2 separate regions of the Homo sapiens genome follow, and region 2 is linked to region 1. The links come from fine-mapping of genetic effects on gene expression. A gene starts in region 1. The other region holds a variant in brackets. All regions are shown on one strand. Distances are between the middles of the regions. Region 1 holds the start of UNC13D (unc-13 homolog D). Region 2 overlaps FBF1 (Fas binding factor 1).

Region 1 (8,576 bases):
GAGGCAGGAGAATCACTTGAACCTGGAAGGCAGAGGTTGCATGCAGTGAGTCAAGATTGCACCATTCCACTCCAGCCTGGGCAACAAGGGTGAAACTCCGTTTCAAAAAAAAAAAAAAAAAGCAGCAAAATGATGACCCTGCAGTTCCAGCACTTGTGTTTCATGAGAAGCTGGAGATCTGGATGGTATGTCAAATCTCCAGATAGCTTTTTCTAATATTTTTTGGAAATGAGGTCTCACTCTGTGATCCGGGCAGGAGTGTTGGTGTGATCATAGCTCACTGCAGCCTTGAAATCCTGGGCTCAAGTGATCCTCCTGCCTCAGCCTCCCAAAGTCCTGGGATTACAGGAGTGAGCCACCGCATCAGCCGAATCTCTAGACTTTTTAAAATTGGCAACTGATTCAAAACTTAAAACACACATTTTGGGCCAAAGGGAACTCTGCTGAGAATTACACTTTGGGCTACCGGCTTGGAGGAGGGCAGGGGGCGTGGGGGGCTGGTGGCTCAGGGGTTCTGCCCAGGGCTGTGTACTCACGCCATGGACTGGTGGAAGTCGGATAGGTCCTTCTGTGTGGCGTGCAGAAAGAGGACGGTGGCAGCCTGGGGACTCAGCGACCCGTCCCAGGAGGTGCTTCCCGCCTGAGGGGAGCAGGTGGAGGAGTGTCAGGACCTGAAGGGCAGCCCCGGCTGCGCCCAGCCCCAGGAGGGCAATACCTCGTGCTGGGTGACCTCGTGGGACACAAGCTGCTGCAGGAGGTGGAGGTGCACGGTGTAGCTCGGCTGCGAGCGGCTGGCCGAAGTGGCTCTCTGCAATGAGGCCTCTGTGAGCAGACAGGGCCTCACACTGGGTGCAGCCAGCCCCGCAACCCAGCAGACCGCCGCAAGAGCTGGGCATGGCCACTGGCCCAGTACCCGACCTACCCGCTTATGGATGAGTTGGAACTGGAGGTGGCACTGGCCTCGGTCTGGGTAGGTCTCAGTGCGGGGTTCCAGGGGGTACCACTGGTCCTCTCGGCAGCGCAGGTCCTGACAGGCGGGGATGCCCAGCCCGTGAGCGTCAGAACCTCATAGAGTCGGGGCAGCGGAGGCGACAGGAGGTGGACCCCAGGCTCAGCTTTGTGAGGACACAGAGCCTCTCCCCAGAACCCCTCCCAACCCCCTCCCTCTGCCTCGCTCCTGGGCCCCTTTCCTCATCCTCCTCACCTGCAGCCTCAGAACCACGTTCCCCAGAAAGTCGTCCTGGCCTTTGTCCTTCCGGGCCTCTTTAAAGATCCTGCGTCAGGCAGGGTCCCATAAGGGGGACGCAGCAAGGGTCGGAAGGGATTAGGCTGGAATCCACCCCCGGCCGCAGCCACCTGGACCCCAAAGGAGCCTGCACCCCAGCATCCAGTGTGCATGTTGGGGGATGGAGGGCAAAAGGAGCCCCAACCCCTTCCCTGTGAGCCCTGCAACACGAACCTGCGAAGCCCATGCAGATCCGTGAGCTCCCCAAGCTTCTGTCGGACAGACTCCACAGTGTCCAGGTCCCTGGCAGGACAGAGGTTTGAGAAGGAAGCAGAGAGAGTGCCTACGACCTCTTCCAGGAGGAGGTTCCGCCTCTCTCACCCCAGATCCCTTCCCTTCCCATCCCTAGGGGCAGGCCAGGTCACTCACCACATGTCCAGATGAAAGCTCGCATTGGTGATGTCCTCAAACTCCCTGTATGGAGAAAAGGGCGTGGTTGAGGGCCCTGGAGGGTGGATGCCCCCAGACGAAGCAGTAAGTGACCACAGCCCAGAGCCATGGAGTTGTAGCCTATCCCTGCCAAACTTCCCTCCTCCCAGCCGCATCCCTTTTTTTTTTTTTTTTTTTTTTTTTGAGATGGAGTCTAGTTCTGTCCCCCAGGCTGGAGGAGTGCAGTGGCAGGATCTAACTCACTGCAACCTCTGCCTCCTGGGTTCAAGCAATTTTCCTGCCTCAGCCTTCCAAGTAGCTGGGATTACAGGTGCCCGCCACCACACCTGGCTAATTTTTGTATTTTTAGTAGAGACGGGGTTTCACTGTGTTGGCCACACTGGTCTTGAGCTTCTGACCTCGTGATCCGCCCGCCTAGGCCTCCCAAAGTGCTGGGATTACAAGCGTGAGCCACCGCGCCCAGCCTTTTTTTTTTTTTTTTTGAGACAGAGTCTCACTCTGTCACCCAGGCTGGAGTGCAGTGGCGTGATCTCGGCTCACTGCAACCTCCGCCTCCCGGGTTCAAGTGATTCTCCTGCCTCAGCCTCTTAAGTAGCTGGGATTACAGGCATGCACCTCCACGCCCGGCTAATTTTTGTACTTTTAGGAGAGGTGGGCCTTCATTGTGTTGGCCAGGCTGGTCTCAAACTCCTGACCTCAGGTGATCCACCTGCCTCGGCCTCCCAAAAGTGCTGGGATTACAGGCATGAGTCCCTGCGCCTGGCCCCCACTAATTTTTTTTTTTTTTTTTGAGACAGAGTGTCGCTCTGTCACCAGGCTGGAGTGCAGTGGTGCTATCTCGGCTCACTGCAACCTCCGCCTCCCAGGTTCAAGCGATTCCCCTGCCTCAGCCTTCCGAGTAGCTGGGACTACAGGCGCCTGCCACCACGCCCGGCTAATTTTTTGTATTTTAGTAGAGACGGGGTTTCACCGTGTTAGCCAGGATGGTCTCAATCTCCTGACCTCATGATCTGCCCTCCTCAGCCTCCCAAAATGCTGGGATTATAGGCGTGAGCCACCACGCCCGGCCTTTTTTGTATTTTTAGTAGAGATGGGGTTTTGCCATGTTGGCCAGGCTGGTCTCAGTCTCCTGGCCTCCCAAAGTGCTGGGATTACAGGTGGGAACCACTGCACCCATCCCTGCCTCCTTTCAGGTACAGCTTCAGGCACCCCCAGACTCACCCACAAGGGCCTGACCCTCCTTGCCCCATCAGCACGTGTGGCATTGATCTTGTTCTGTCCCATCTGACCTACTGTCCACCTAACGTGCCTGGAGATGGGCTTCTCCTCTAGTCTTTGCCCAGGGCCAAACCCCCTCCCCTGAGCCAGGACGACCTACTCATCTCATTGTCTGGGGCAGACCCTGCTACCCAGGAAAGACCTGGATAGAGTGGGGGCTGGAGCACGGCCACGTACAGGATGAAGGTCTCGTCCCAGACGGGGTTGAGTGTCTGGGTGATGACCTGCGTGCGGTGGGTCTCCTCCTCGGGGATGGTGTGCCTCACCACAGCCTTCTGCCGATGCCGGGACCCGGGGCTGCCCCCTGGCACACCTACCCCCTGCTCAATGCCCAGCAGGCAGTAGGGGTCGCTGAACCCTGTGGAGGAGTGGGGAAGACGAGGCAGCCAGGGAGTCGGCTGGGTCCCTGGGAGAGGCCCTCATCACCCCCGCCCGGGGCTGAGCCTCCTCCGGGGGAGAGGGAAGGGGACCAGCAGCATGGGGGGCCAGCGCTACAGGGCTTCTTGGAAGTGGGTGCTCCCGCCAAGAGTCCTGGGCCAGGCTGTGATGGGAGAGGAAGGAGCCAGGAAGAAGCCCCTTGGGGACCCCACCCCATGCTCACCACTGACATCTTTGCCCAGAATGCCCTTGGCCTGTTTCACTGTTGCCTTCAGACAAAATATTGGCTTCTGGAGGGACAGGAGGGATGGCCTGAGTCCCTGAGGGGGCTGGGCTTCCCAGGCCCCTCCTTGCCCAGGGGGACCCTGGCCCCAGGTTACCTCAAGCTCCCTGACCCGCTGCAGTGTCTGCTGGTGCTCCTCGGGCTCCACGTGGAAGGCCTGGTGGGGAGGCAGGCGGGTGGGTGGCTGGGGGCACCAGACAGGGCAGCTGCAGGAAGGGGGGTGGGGTGGGAGCCGGGCTCACCTCCTGCAGGTATCGCAGCAGCTCAGAGGCCTCCGTCACATGGTTGGGCTCAGGATGACCCAGGCGGTGCAAGACAGTGTAGAGTGCGTCCTCGTAGAGCAGGGCCCGCTAAGACACACGGGGTCACCTTGGGGACCCCACCAGCCACCCCTGGCACCAACACCTCTCGCCATGGGCAGGACAAGGGCGGCTTGTGCAGCGGAGGGAGTTGAGACCCAGGAGTCCCCTCCCCACCGCAAGTTGCTTGCTGCCATCAGCGTCGGCCGGCAGGAGGACACACAGCCGCCCTCCCCACCTCTCTGCACCCCAGCACTCTGACTCTTACCTGCTCGGGGGAGAAGTGGTGGGATGGAGGCTGGATCTGCAGAGCAAGGTGGAAAGGCAGTGTCCCGGGAGGCCCAGAGCAGGCTCAGATGGACAGGAATGGCTCCTCTGAGGCCTGATCCAGGCCAAGGGTATGGGGGCCCCAGCACCCCGGCCTCCAGCCCCAGTGATGCCCCGCACCTGTTCCCCCAGCAGGCCTCCTGGAGGTCCGTCCCTGGGCCCGCCGTGGCTGAGGTCCATGGGTGCCCAGCAGCGCGAGCCCTCCGCACCCGCACCCCACCTCCCTCCCTTCCCCAGAGGAAACAGCTCTGCTTATCAGTGGCGGCTGCTCCTCACCCAGCAGCGGAAGTGAGGCTCGGCAGCGGAGGTGAGGGGGGTGCCACGTCGGCCTGGGGGTCTGCTGCTCCCCGAACAGCTCACCCCACAGCAGGGACACCCCCACCTAATGGAGTCGGCTCTTCTGAAGCTGGAGGAGTAGGGGATGGGGTCAGGCCAACCGGGAGGGAGGGGTTCTGAGAGCCTCAGACCACAGGGCCTGAGGCCCACAGTGGCCCAGAGTCCATCTGGCAGCCCCTGCTCTGCTGGCCCAGGGGGCTCTCCCCAGGGTGGAGTAGGCAGGGGAGGGTCGCTGGTCCCCAGTCCCAGCCTTCGAGAGGTGGGGCCAGACAGCAGGGCACCCGTACCCGAGACCACAGTGCTCCCCAAGGCCAGCTCTCTCCCCAGTGAGGTCACTCCTACCTCCGGGGCCATTTGGGGCGGGGGATCCTGTAGATCTCTGACTCTGCGGCGCCTTATCTTGATGGCCTGGCGCAAGAAGGGAGGGCGCTGCTGCGGATGGGAGAGGAGTGTCGCCATGGTGGCCTTCTCTGCCCTTCCCTGTCCGCTGGTGCTGGGTGAAGACAGCGAAGCCACAGGATTATGCAAAGAGCCTGGGGCTGCCACCCTCTGTCAGGGGAAGTTTTAGGGAGGGTGGCTGGGAGGGACGGAAGGGTGAGGGTTTCACCGCTTCGGAGAGGCAGTCTCCCAGGCCCCCTGCACCTTCCCCAGCTGGGATCCCTACAGGACCCTCCTCTGGCTGGAGCAGAAGGTGGACCCCGTGGGCAGGCCTGGCCCCGCCCCACCCTCCTACAGAGGCCCTGGGAAGGGGACAACGCTCTCAGCAGGGGGCGGGGGGGCCCAGAACAGGCGGGCAGCATCCTGCCCCATCCATGTGCTGTGCCCAGGCTGGGCTGAACCCTGAGAGAAGCTGACCTGGGCCCGGGGGGGTTCTCACCCCACTTCCTCGAGTGCGTCCAGACGTGGGGCGGGGCGGGGTGGGGTGGGGTGTGGTGGCGCCCAGGGTGGGGGCTCCCAAGAGGCGTCTCCCTGGAGGACAGCCAGTTGCTCAGCCTGCCTGGCCCCACAGGTGACATTCCTTGGAGATGACGGGGCCAAGCTGTGCTGGGCAGGGACAGCCCTGTGCCCCTGCCCCCACCTTGGCAGTCAGGACAGTGCTCCCTTCAGACACCCTTGAAGGGGGCTTAGCCAAGTCCCAGAGAGCTCTGGGCCAGGCTGGCCAGGAGGAGGAGGCAGAGGGGCTGCTGCCCGATCTCTCCTGAGGACAGACTTGGCTCCCGGGGGACAGGAAAATGCGCCTCAGCATGGGGCTTTCCTAGAGCTCTGTGGCCTGCCCACCCTGTGCCCAGTGCTGGGCTGGGGGACTTGCGGGCGTGTGGGCCTGGTCACGGCCTTTGGCCATTTCCCACCCTCCTGTCCCTTCAAGTTCACAGCAGGGCACGTGACGTGGGTGGTGGCAAGCCGGCTTGGCTACCTCAGTGTCCCTGTCACAGGTCCTGACGTGCTCCAGGGCTGACTCGGCCTCCTCCCTCCAGCAACCAGGACTTAGGCCAGGGCTGCCATTCCTCGAGGAGCCAGCAGGGGACAAGGTGGCAGCCCCAACTCCTCCCTTCAAGGCCAACTCTGGGCCACATCCACCTCTGTCCCAGCCAGGCCCTGGGGACTCAGTGGGGGAGGGACACAGCTGCTGAGCGACAACCGTTAAGAACCAGCTCCAGAGGCCAGAGCTGTCTTGGGGACCAGACAGGCTGGCTGGGCCGTGAGAATGGGGATCCTCCCATGGGAGGGAACCGTCCCAGAAGTCTCCAGGGCCCTCAGCGGCCAGACGGCTCTCCTTCCGGAAGAGACCCCCGGGTCACCACACGCAGAGCCAGAAAGGGTCCAGTTATTTCATTTTTACTATTTCACATTTTCAGCAAACAAATCGAGGTGCAAACAGGGTTTATTTCACATTAATATATTAACTGGATTTTTTGTCAAATAAATAGGGAATTCTCTTTAAATAACCATCTCCTCACTTCATGGCCAGTCCAGGGACAAACAAGAGTGAATGTTAGCGCATCCAGGGGCACAAAGCTTAAGGGGAAGAAGCAGGCTGGGGGGCTGGTGGCAGGTCCCGGCCAGCACACAGGGTCAGGGGCCCTTGTTCCCGGCCCCACCCAGCAGCCACCAAGTGGACAGACATGCATTCTCTGGTTCCAGTCAGGAAGCTCCTTCTAGAAGGAAGTGAGAGGTGAGGGAAAGCAAATTCCAGAAACACCAGCAAAAGGCAGAAGGGCTTCCTCCCAGCCTCGGCGGCCCTGCCCCGACGCCACCCAAGCCCTGGAAGCTCATTTTACAGCTTCAAAAGTCACACAGGGTGGCAACAACATGACCCAGGACAGGGAAGGGAAGGAAGGGTGGCGGGGGCTGCAGCTGGACCCTGGCTGAGTGGAATGCGGGCGCGGTGGCCTTCTGAGACCAGCACAGACCAGCAGAGGGAATGTGAGCAGGGTCTGGCAGGGCCCGGGAAGACACCTGGCTGGTCTGAAGTGGCTCATGAGGCTGAGTGTAGCAGTGGGTGCCAGACTGAGGGAGCTGGACTGCGGTGGAGGAGGTGGCCAGAGAGTCCCTTCGAGGGGAGAAGCTGAGAGTGAAACAGGAACAGGGGATGCTCCGTGCTCCCAGAAGAGCCCCAGACGGTGAGGGAGGTACGCTGGGCAGCACTGTGGGCTCCGGGCTGGCATGGGAAGCTGGGCGGCACCTCTCCCGAGGCCGGGGGCCCTAATGTCCCACAATGCTAGTTCCTGGTAATTGTTTATGATCAGACCTGGAGGGAGAACAAGGCGCCCCCTCCCCTCCCCAAGCCCCAGCACAGCCCCGATGGGAGGGGTAGGGTAGAGAGATGAGGGTGGGAGGCAGGGAGGCAGGAGGGCCTACTGGGTCTTCTTATCTTCCGGTGGGTAGTAGGGAGGTGGCGGCGGCTGGCTCTAAAGAAGGGAGAAAGGAGAGACTTGCATTAGAAGGTTTAAAACATGGTGCGGTCATCCCCCTGCGGCTCCCAGCATCTGCGGCTGTGGGGCTGCACCGGCACTGCCAAGCCCTCTCACCGTGGGCATGTAGACGTTGTGAGGATTGCCTGGGTTGTAATAGGCGCTGGCGGCTGCTTCTGCGGCCTTGGCTTCGGCTGTGAGAGCAAACACACCTGGTGTCGGTGACAAGTTCTCCTCCCCCTGAGCTCAGCTAAGAGACCCCGGGCCCCCATGGCTCGGGGCAGCTGGTGCTGGGGGTCCAGTTCCACCAATGAGAGCAGCAGGTGAGGTTTCCTGAGCACATGCCACGCGCTGGCACGGTCCTTTCCAGGCCCATCGCATGTCTCACCTCATCTAATCCTTGAGCCAATGCCCCAGGTGCCACTGTGACCGACCAGCTGAGTGTAGATGAGAGGATCGAGAGGCACACAGGGTGACCTTCCCCGCCCAGGGCACATGGATAGCTAAGGGATGGGGGTGGGGCCAGAATCTAGCTCCGCTCCACCAGGCCACAGCCCTGCTGGGCCCCTGGGGTAGTCCAGGGGTCATCCATCATCTGCGGCTCTCAGCAGTCTCTGGCCATTCTGAGGCTCTCTGTGCGACATCGGGGAGGAGAGGGCTGGTCCCGAAGGGCTGCCAGCACCCAAGGGCCCTCACCTGCAGGAGTGGAGGGGACATCGGGGCCGCTGACCGGAGGTTCCATGGGCCCAGGGTAGGGCGGTGGTGGGGGCTGCACGTATCCCATGGCCCCGTCCATCATGGGGGGTCCTGGATAGAACTCTGCTCGGTGAGAGAGTAACAAGGACATGGTGAGCACCCGGCTGCGGCCCCCTCCCGGGTGAGGGGGGCCTCTCCAGCTCCTTCGTTGGTCCTGAAGCAGCTCAAGGAATAAAGTCTCCCTGGCCTGGGGGGAGCCTGGGTAGGTGGGCTCATGAGGGGAGTGGGGGCAGCAAAGGACACACTCACCAGGTGGGGGCGGTGGATAGGGGTAGCCAGGAGGGCAGGGGTACATTCCATTGGCGACTGGCGGGGGATAGACATAGGCCCCG
Region 2 (8,576 bases), 76 kb after region 1:
TGCTCGGCAGTCACCCGCCAGCGTTCCTGTAGGGCCCAGGGCAGGACTGAGAGCGTGGTTCCCGCCCTGAGGATCACGCCTGGCCACTCCCTGAGAAGCTGCATGAACCCACCAGTGTCTCCCACACTATGCCACTGACACGTCCTTCCCAAAGAGGCACAAAATGAGGGGTGCCTGGGAGGCACTGCCAGGGCCCAGCCCGCACGATTCTGCCCAAGAGAAGGACCCAGCAGGTGCCCTCCCAACCCTCAGGTCTCCAACAGCACCAAGGCTAGCAGCTTGGGAGGGCCAAAGAGCAGCAACATCCCTGCCGCTGAATCGCCAGCTACGCACTCTGCCTGTCCTCACCCATCAGCCAAGCAGGCTAAGCACAGGGTGGCTTAATGCTGTGCTGTGGGCCCAGCCACACACAGCACAAGGCGAGAGCTTCACTGTGCCTGACCCCAGGCAGATGCTTAACACAGTTACCAAATGAAGAGGCGAATCAAAATGCTTCACAACATAAAAGCATCTCTATCTACGTTGACATGGCTACAGGATAGATATCAGGTCAGCAGTGGACATCTCTGACTAGTGGGATATTTTTATTTTCTTCTTTAAAAACATTTTTTTGGGCCGGGCACAGTGGCTCAGCCCTATAATCCCAGCACTTTGGGAGGCTGAGACGGGTGGATCACCTGAGGTCAGGAGTTCAAGACCAGCCTGGCCAACGTGGTGAAACCCATCTCTACTAAAAATACAAAAATTAGCTGGGCGTGGTGGCAGTTGCCTGTAATCCCAGTAGCTCAGGAGGCTGAGGCAGGAGAATCCCTTGAACCCAGGAGGCGAAGTTTGCAGTGAGCTGAGATTGCGCCACTACACTACAGCCTGGGTGACAGAGCGAGACTCTGACTCAAAAAAAAAAAAAAAAAAAAAAAAGTTTTTGGCTGGGCATGGTGGCTCACGCCTGTAATCCCTGCACTTTGGGAGGCCAAAGTGGGCAGCTTGTCTGAGCTCAGGAGTTTGAGATCAGCCTGGGCAACATGGCAAACCCCCGTTTCTACAAAAAATACAAAAAATTAGCTGGGTATAGTGGCATGCACCTGTGATCCCAGCTACTTGGCAGCTGAGGTGGGAAGATTGCTTGAGCCCAGGAGGTTCAAGCTGCAGTGGGCTGAGATCTTGCCACTGCACTCCAGCCTGAGTGACAGTGAGACCCCATCTCTAAAAAAAATTTTTTTTTTTGGCCAGGCATGGTGGCTCCCACCTGTACTCTCAAAATGTTGGGAGGCCTAAGTGGGCAGATTGCTTGAGCCCAGGAGTTCAAGACCAGCCTGGGCAACATGGCAAGACCCACATCTCAGTAAAAAATACACAATTAGCTGGGTGTGGTGGTTTGCGCCTGTAGTCCCAGCTACTCAGGAAGCTGAGGCAGGAGGATGGCTTAAGCCAAGGAGGTCAGGCTGCAGTGAGCTATGATCACACCACTGCACTCCAGCCTGGGCAACAGAGCAAGACCCTGTCTCTAAAAAATAACAGTGCTTTGTAAAACCTTAGAAGATGATAACTACTAGCTGAGGACAAAAAGATAGGTGGGAGGACAAGGAAGGCTTTGTGGAGGTGGTAGCATCGAAAGATTCATTACCATTGAATTCAGCCTAGAAAGATTTCCACAGGTAAGGAAAAGGATGTGAGCAAAGGCAGGGACTGCAGGTGTGCACCACCACACCCAGTTAATTAAAACAAAATTTAAATGTTTTTATTATTTATTTTTTTGAGACAGAGTCTCGCTCTGTTAACCAGACTGGTGTGCCATGTTATGATCTCCACTCACTGCAGCCTCTGTGTCCTAGATTCAAGCGATTCTCCCACCTCAGCCTCTCTAGTAGCTGGGATTACAGGCGTGCGCCACCACGCCTGGCTAGTTTCTTATTTCTTTATTTTTAGTTTCACCATGTTGGCCAGGCTGGTCTCGAACTCCTGACCTCAAGTGATCCTCCAGCCTTGGACTCCTGAAGTGCTGGAATTACAGGCATGAGCCAACTTGCCTGGCATAAAAAAATTTATTTATGGTCTCGCTAGGCTGGTCTCAAATTCTGGGCCTTAAGTGATCCTGCTGCCTCAGCCCCCCAAGTAGCTGGGATTATAGGCACAGGCCACTGTGCCTGGCTAAGGTCATCATTATTTAAATAAAGCATGTGCTTATATATGAAAGGTATCTAGGGAATTCAAATGTCTCTGTGAGAGCTGAAGAGGCTAGGATGACATTTAATGGGCAAGAGCATCTGTCCCAATGTCAGGCCTCAGCTAATGTGACAGATTCGAGTGTCAGGAAGTGGGAAGTGCAGCTGATGGTTGCGGGGGCTAGACTGCGGAGGGCAGCCAAGGTGGCCGAGGGGCTTGCGGTGCTGAGGAGCGGACAGGGCGTGGTGGGGGGCCTGGCCAGGCGGCCCCTGCATGCTCAGGTGGGCAGTGCTGAGAGCCTGGCCAGGGCAGGGAGATGTAGAGGCAGGAAGCGGCAGGTGGGGCCTTGACCTCCTGAGGAAGTGAGGTCACGGGAGTGCCGCTACACTTGCGGGTGCCCTGGAGAAGAGGCCCCGTGGCAGGAGGGGCAGGAGGGCCAGGAGGACGGGCCTCACCTGCTCCAGCAGCCGGCTCTGCTCATTCAGCCGTGCCTCCATCTTCCCGATGACCTCCTGTTGCCGGCTCCGCTCCTCCTCCATGTCCCGCTGCTGCTGGCCCAGCCGCTCCTGCAGTGCTGGGGGCAACCCACAGGGTGCTCAGCAGCTGCTCCCCCTTCCCACCAGGAGCCGGGGTGGCTGAGAGGGGAGGGCGTACCCCGCAGCTGCTCGTCACGCTGCCGGATCCCCAGCTCCCGCTCCTGGGAGGTGGTGAGGTGCGAGGCCTCCACGCGGGAGGACAACTCGTGCAGGCTGCTGGAGAACTTCTCCATCTGGTGGATGATGCTATTCAGGGACCTGGAAGAAGACTGGGTCACCCCCTCCTGACGGTCTCGGGGACCTTCCGGCCCCCAACGTCAGGCGGGCATGGTTGGGGCAGCGCACATACCGCGTGTGGGAGGTGGCACTGGTGGCCGCATCGACCTCTCGGTCCTTCAGCAGCTTTAGCCGCTGCAGCTGCTCCTCGTGGTCTCTGCGCATGTCTAGGATGGACGCCCTGAGGGGAGGCGGGAGGGGAAGGCGGTCACTCTGAGCTGGATCACCCTGATGCGGTAACTCCTTGTGGAAGGGTGTGTTTCCGTGCAGCCCTTGCTCCCAGGCCTCTCCTCCGCCGGGCACTGCCTCAGTTTCCCCAGCTCCTCTGTCTTATCTGTCATGGTGCCTCAATGCTACACGCACTAAGATGGGCATTCCTCCCATTATTCAGCTTTTCTTTTTTTGGAGATGGAGTTTTGCTCTGTCACCCAGAGTCTCTCACTCTGTCGCCCAGGCTGGAGTTCAGTGGCATGATCTCGGCTCACTGCAACCTCTGCCTCCTGGGTTCAAGCAATTCTCCTGCCTCAGCCTCCCGAGTGGCTGGGACTATAGGCGCTCACCACGCCTAATTTTTTATATTTTAGTAGAGATGGGGTTTCCACCGTGTTGCCCAGGCTGGTCTCGAACTTCTGAGCTCAGGCAATCTACCCACCTTGGCCTCCCAAAGCACTGGGATTACAGGTGTGAGCCACCACGCCCGGCCCCAAGCAGTCTTTCTTTTTTTTTTTTTTTTTCCTAGAGATGAGGTCTCACTATGTTGCCCAGGCTGGTCTTGAACTCCTAGCCTCAAGCAATCCTCCTGCCTTGGCCTCCCAAGTGTTTTGTTTTTTAAATGTTTTTAGAGACAGGGTTTTGTTCTGTGGTCCAGGCTGGAGTGCAGTGGCATCATAGCTCATTGCAGCCCTGATCTCTTGGGCTGAAGGTATCCTCCTGCCTCAGTTTCCCAAGTAGCTGGAACTACAGGAGTAGCTGTCATGCCAGCTTATTTAAAAATTGTTTTTAGAGATGAGGTCTCACTGTGTTGCCCAGACTGGTCTCAAACTCCTGGCCTCAAGTGATCCTCCCACCTCGGCCTCCCAAAGTGCTGGGATTACAGGTGTGAGCCACTGCACCCGGCCCTGAGCAGTCTTAAAAGGCTGCCTCTGCCTTCATCGACCTCTGACTCCCTTAGGTAACTTTTCTTAGTTTCCTTCTCTTCTAGAAAGGCAACCCTATAAACATGGCAGGCACAACAGCGCAAGCCTTTCCCAGGTGGATCTTGTTTCTAGCCTCTACTGCATGAGCAGGCGAGTGGATGACCCTGTGCTTAGTTAGACCCTAGGCGGCTTGCTGCTGCCATGCCATGCCTGAACAGCCTGTGGGTACCCCCTCCTGCCTCTGTAAGAGCAGGTGGCACCCCCACCCATGGGTGTGATGGGTCAGTGTGCTCAGCCCTCAGTCCTCACTCACTGGACTGGGAGGGAAGGACCCAACCCCTGTCCAAAGGCTGCTGAGCCACAGCGAAGGGTCTCGTGGGGATGGCTCTCTTCCGGCTACTCCTTGCAAGCCTGCTCCCCAGCTGCCTGTCCCTGGGCCTCACCGCTGCAGCTCCCGGAGCCGCTCCATTTCCTGGTCCTTCTCCTGCGCTATGGCCGCCAAGCGCCGCTGGTGCTGGGCCGTAAGCTCAGCACGGGCCTGTTCGGC[C/T]TCCTGGCACTGCGACAGATACCGAGCTGACAGCTCTTCGTTCTCTCTCCGGAGCCGCTCCTCCCGTTGCTGGTACGATGTTTCTAGCACCTTGATGCGGCTTCTGCCAACAGAACACCCAGCCATGGCGCAAGGAAGGCAGAGGGCTGCCGCCTAAAGGCCTCTCCAGGCACACTGGGTGGCCTTTGGGGTCAGTGTGAGATCCAAGGCAGAGCTGGGGCCAGCGCCAGGGTACCTGTGTGCACTCTCGATGAGCTCCAGGTCTGCCTGGTGCTGCTGCTGCAGACTCCCCAGCAGCAGCTCATGCTGGGCCCGTTCTAGCTCCAGCTTCCGCACCTGGGAGACAGCAGGAGGGCCAGCAACCAGGGAGGGGAGGTGGCTGTACTCCACGCTGCCCTGTGCCAACAGCCCTTCCTCCCTCCTGGGGAAGCTTCCAGCCACTCTCAGTGTCCCCTCCTGTCGCAACCCTGCCACCAGCACCAACGGCCCCGCTGCCCCTCACCTGGGCCTCCAGCTCTGCCAGCCGGGCCTGGCTATGCAGCAGCTCGGCCTGGAGCTCAGCGGGGCTGCACTGAAGTTGCACCTGTGCTGCCAGGAGCTGCTTCTGGTATTCTGTGCTCGGCAGCAGGCTCCGGGCCAGGGACTCTGGGAGCAGGGGCTGGAGGAGAGGAAGAGAGGTGTTTCTAGTTAGGGAGGGGACAGGGGCCCAGCTGAGATCAGCTACCTCCTGGCCCACTGCTCACTGGACCTCCCTGCATCTGATCTGTGGCTGCAGATGGGGCCAAGGCCTTGGAAAGTAACAGTCACTGCGGCTAAGCAGTCCCCAGTGTACCTCCCCTTGCAGATCTGGTCAGGAGCATGTCTCCCTCCACCCTCCGGAACAGCTTCCTCCCCAGCATGGTCTCCGGCTTCCCAGACAAATGGCTGAACCCCAGCAGAGTCTTCGCTATGACAAAAGCTGATGCTGGCTTTTCCTGTCAGGCCTGAAGCCCACATGTTGACACTAATCTGGTTCCCACGAGCTGTCCCCTACCCACCATCTCCCAGGGACACACTCCTGGGGGGGGGGGGGGCACACCTCCCAGGCCCAGGTGTCACAGGTGACTGCCACACATGGGAAACAGAGGCAGAGGTGTGGTGGGAGGATGGCAAGGGTGGAGGAGGCTTTCTTGACAGAACAGGACCCTGCGGCCCTGCTTTCTGACTGCAGCATCCCAGCTCCCCGGCCTGGCTGCCTCCTTAAACTCCCCACTGATGTAGGCAAATTAACACCCAGCTCTGCCCAGGAGCAGCGAGGCTAGAAATTCAGGCAAGTTCTAGTGGGGGGTGCCCGGGGAGCTGGCTGACGTCACATTTGGTATGTTTGACACATTTTTCCTGGCAGGTCGTCAGGTCAAACTGTGGGTATTGCCCCTGGGCATGGAGAATTGCTCCCTAGGCCCTGAGCTAGACCTGTCTGCCCACACCCCTACCTGGACGGGCACGGAAGGCTCTGTGGGTTTCTGGGTGCTCGGGAAACACGTGGCAGGCTCTGAAACATCAACAACAGAGAAATGAACAGGAGGCCCAGGGCACTGGGCCTGCGAGTGTCCAGGAGGGGCTGGTGTAACTCATGTCCCAGGGACCCCAAAGGAAGCTCAAAGCACCTCTTCCTCACCCAGGGTTAAACTCCCAAATGAAGCAGCAAACAAAAAACAAACCAGTGGCTGAGAGGTCTCCAGGGGCTGTTCCCCTCTTTGGGGAACCTGTAGGGAGTGCTGAGGCGGCATGGTTCTGAGTCACAGGGGACCTGAGGACACAGGGATGGGGCATGGTGAGCAGCCTCTGTGTGGGACACGGGGACGGGGCAGGGTGGGCAGCCTCTAGGTGGGACATGGGGACGGGGCAGGGTGGGCAGCCTCTACGTGGGACACGGGGATGGGGCAGGGTGGGCAGCCTCTGCTGGGACACGGGGACGGGGCAGGGTGGGCAGCCTCTAGGTGGGACACGGGGATGGGGCAGGGTGGGCAGCCTCTGTGTAGGGCACAGGGACGGAGCAGGGTGGGCAGCCTCTGTGTGGGACACGGGGACGGGGCAGGGGCAGGGTGAACAGCCTCTGTGTCCCTCTCTCAGGACAGAGGCCTGTGCTGCCCACCATGCTCTCATTCCCACTCAGCCCGCAGCCCAGGCCTACCCCGAGACACCAGGCCTGACACACGGTCTTTCTCGTGCAGTTGTTCCAGAACTCCCTCCAGCAGCTGCGTGCTCAAGCCCTTGTGTGCTGGTGAGAGGTTGGCTGAGGAAAGGCAGCGTTCAAGGTGAAGGTGACAGAAGGCCCAGGTCAGGCTGGATGAAGACAGGGCCCAGGACGGGCTTCACACGTGAAGCTCGTGGCCCCCCTTCCTCCTGCTTCCACCATCCCGTCTTGGGGCATTCTCCTCCCACGTCTGAGCTCCTGGGATTTCTGGGCATCTCTTCCCTTCCAGTACCCCCTTCCTGCCTCAATGTCCACAGTGGTGCAGTGAATGGACACTGTCCAAGCAGTGACAACGGAAATGTTATAGACACTGGAGTCAAGTTCAAGTTCAGAGCCCTGTTCCAGTCCACTTAACTTGGCTCAGCTCTAGATTAGGATTCTGCTCAGTCTACCAAATCTGGCTGGCTCCCTTTCCCATTATTTCCACCTCTTTCTCGGCTCACGGGTCAGTGAAGAGACAGGCTCTTTTCTGTTTTGGCCTGAGCTTTCCCCTCGGCCTCAGGTCAAAGTCAAAACTGCCCTCCTGTCATCAACCCCAGGACAGGGTGATGTCCCTGGGCTGTCACAAATTGCCCAGTTCACTCCCCTGGGCTCTGGCCACAGCACATCTCACCACTTCCTCTGGACTCCCCCAGCCTGCTGGCCCCTTGTGCCTTCCTGCCTTCAGAGGTCACTCGCTATCCTGCCCCACGGATAAGGGCTTCTCCAAGAGGCGCCTCTCGGCCACTATGTCTCCTCTAACACTCTCAAAGAGCACAGGGACATCTCAGCTCACACACGCCATACTCGCTTCAGTGGAGTCGGCAGAAGCACCGGCTGTTTGGATGCCGGGGCTTCCAGCCTGAGGGCGCTGTGACAGGGCAGCGGTGTGTCTGCCACCTCAGGGACCCTCTGTCTTCTCCTCGATCAAGTTAGCACCTGTCCCCATGGCGGTCAGGGCATGAATGTCAACAGCCCTCCTTCTTGGGTATGTCCCTGGGGCAAGCCTGGGAGCCAGAGGCTCTCTCTGCAGTGCCTAAAAGGCAGAGTAGCAAAGCCAAGAAGCGGCCTCTGTGGCCACGGCGCCCTGCCTTGTTCCCCAACTGCTGACTGAGGCTGCAACAGGTGAAGGGGCAAAGGGGCTCCTCAAGTCCCCAGCCAGTCCTCCCCCTACTAGCCACAGCAGCCTAAGTCAGTACCTGCCAGAAGGGGGATGGCCCGCTGTCCCCGCCAAATGCAGGCCCTCAGAGGTCCCAGCATGCTGCTCTCTGGCCAGGCCTTGGGACTTCTTCCGAGACAGGGCATGGCTCAGCCAGTCCTCTTTCTCCTCCTTGGAGGCTCGCAGCTTGGAAGCCTGGCTGGCTTTGGCAGGGGACCCTGCACCTTCAGTTGGTGGCTTTGCCCTGGAGGGGGGCAGCCCAGCTGGCGTGGAGTGCTGGCTCGCAGGAGGAGGCACTGAGGGCGTGACAGGCACTGAACTTTCCCGATGGGCCTCTCTGGTGGGTGAGGCAGGGAACAGGTCCAAGTCCTCGTCCTTGAGGCCCAACCAGTCAGCTCCTCCCTTCCTGGGCTGGATGGGGCTGGAAGCCATTGGAGGGCTCTGTTTGGAGCCTGGTTCTCCCTTGGGGTCTGCGCCACTGTCTGCGAAGAACCTACTTCAAGACAGAAAGGAGGGTGTCAGGCAGGGGAAACAGCCAGTCCCA

What was found. PIP is the estimated chance that this variant, and not a neighbour inherited with it, causes the effect.
Region 2: its variant is fine-mapped to the expression of UNC13D in whole blood (INTERVAL, PIP 0.98).

What each region holds. Positions count from the first base shown.
Region 1 is chr17:75,839,303-75,847,878 of GRCh38, forward strand. UNC13D (unc-13 homolog D) reads right to left here and starts at 5,102. Exons shown (of 32, transcript NM_199242.3): 1 at 4,919-5,102; 2 at 4,182-4,217; 3 at 3,857-3,964; 4 at 3,712-3,771; 5 at 3,555-3,621; 6 at 3,131-3,311; 7 at 1,655-1,699; 8 at 1,460-1,528; 9 at 1,205-1,274; 10 at 923-1,027; 11 at 716-808; 12 at 537-640. The coding sequence starts at 5,035. It overlaps WBP2 (WW domain binding protein 2), which reads right to left. Exons shown (of 8, transcript NM_012478.4): 5 at 8,494-8,576; 6 at 8,185-8,307; 7 at 7,606-7,682; 8 at 6,397-7,485. The coding sequence ends at 7,432. RefSeq lists silencers at 4,372-4,431, 5,282-5,341, 5,352-5,511 and enhancers at 4,619-5,323, 5,742-5,821, 5,952-6,041.
Region 2 is chr17:75,915,114-75,923,689 of GRCh38, forward strand. FBF1 (Fas binding factor 1) reads right to left here. Exons shown (of 30, transcript NM_001319193.2): 14 at 8,073-8,528; 15 at 6,832-6,933; 16 at 6,359-6,447; 17 at 6,131-6,189; 18 at 5,161-5,316; 19 at 4,894-4,994; 20 at 4,555-4,761; 21 at 3,049-3,156; 22 at 2,818-2,957; 23 at 2,619-2,737; 24 at 1-26. Among named protein-coding and RNA genes, the nearest start is that of MRPL38, 15 kb to the left of the region's middle. RefSeq lists enhancers at 1-109, 5,994-7,193. The variant C/T (reference allele first, on the strand shown) is at 4,659.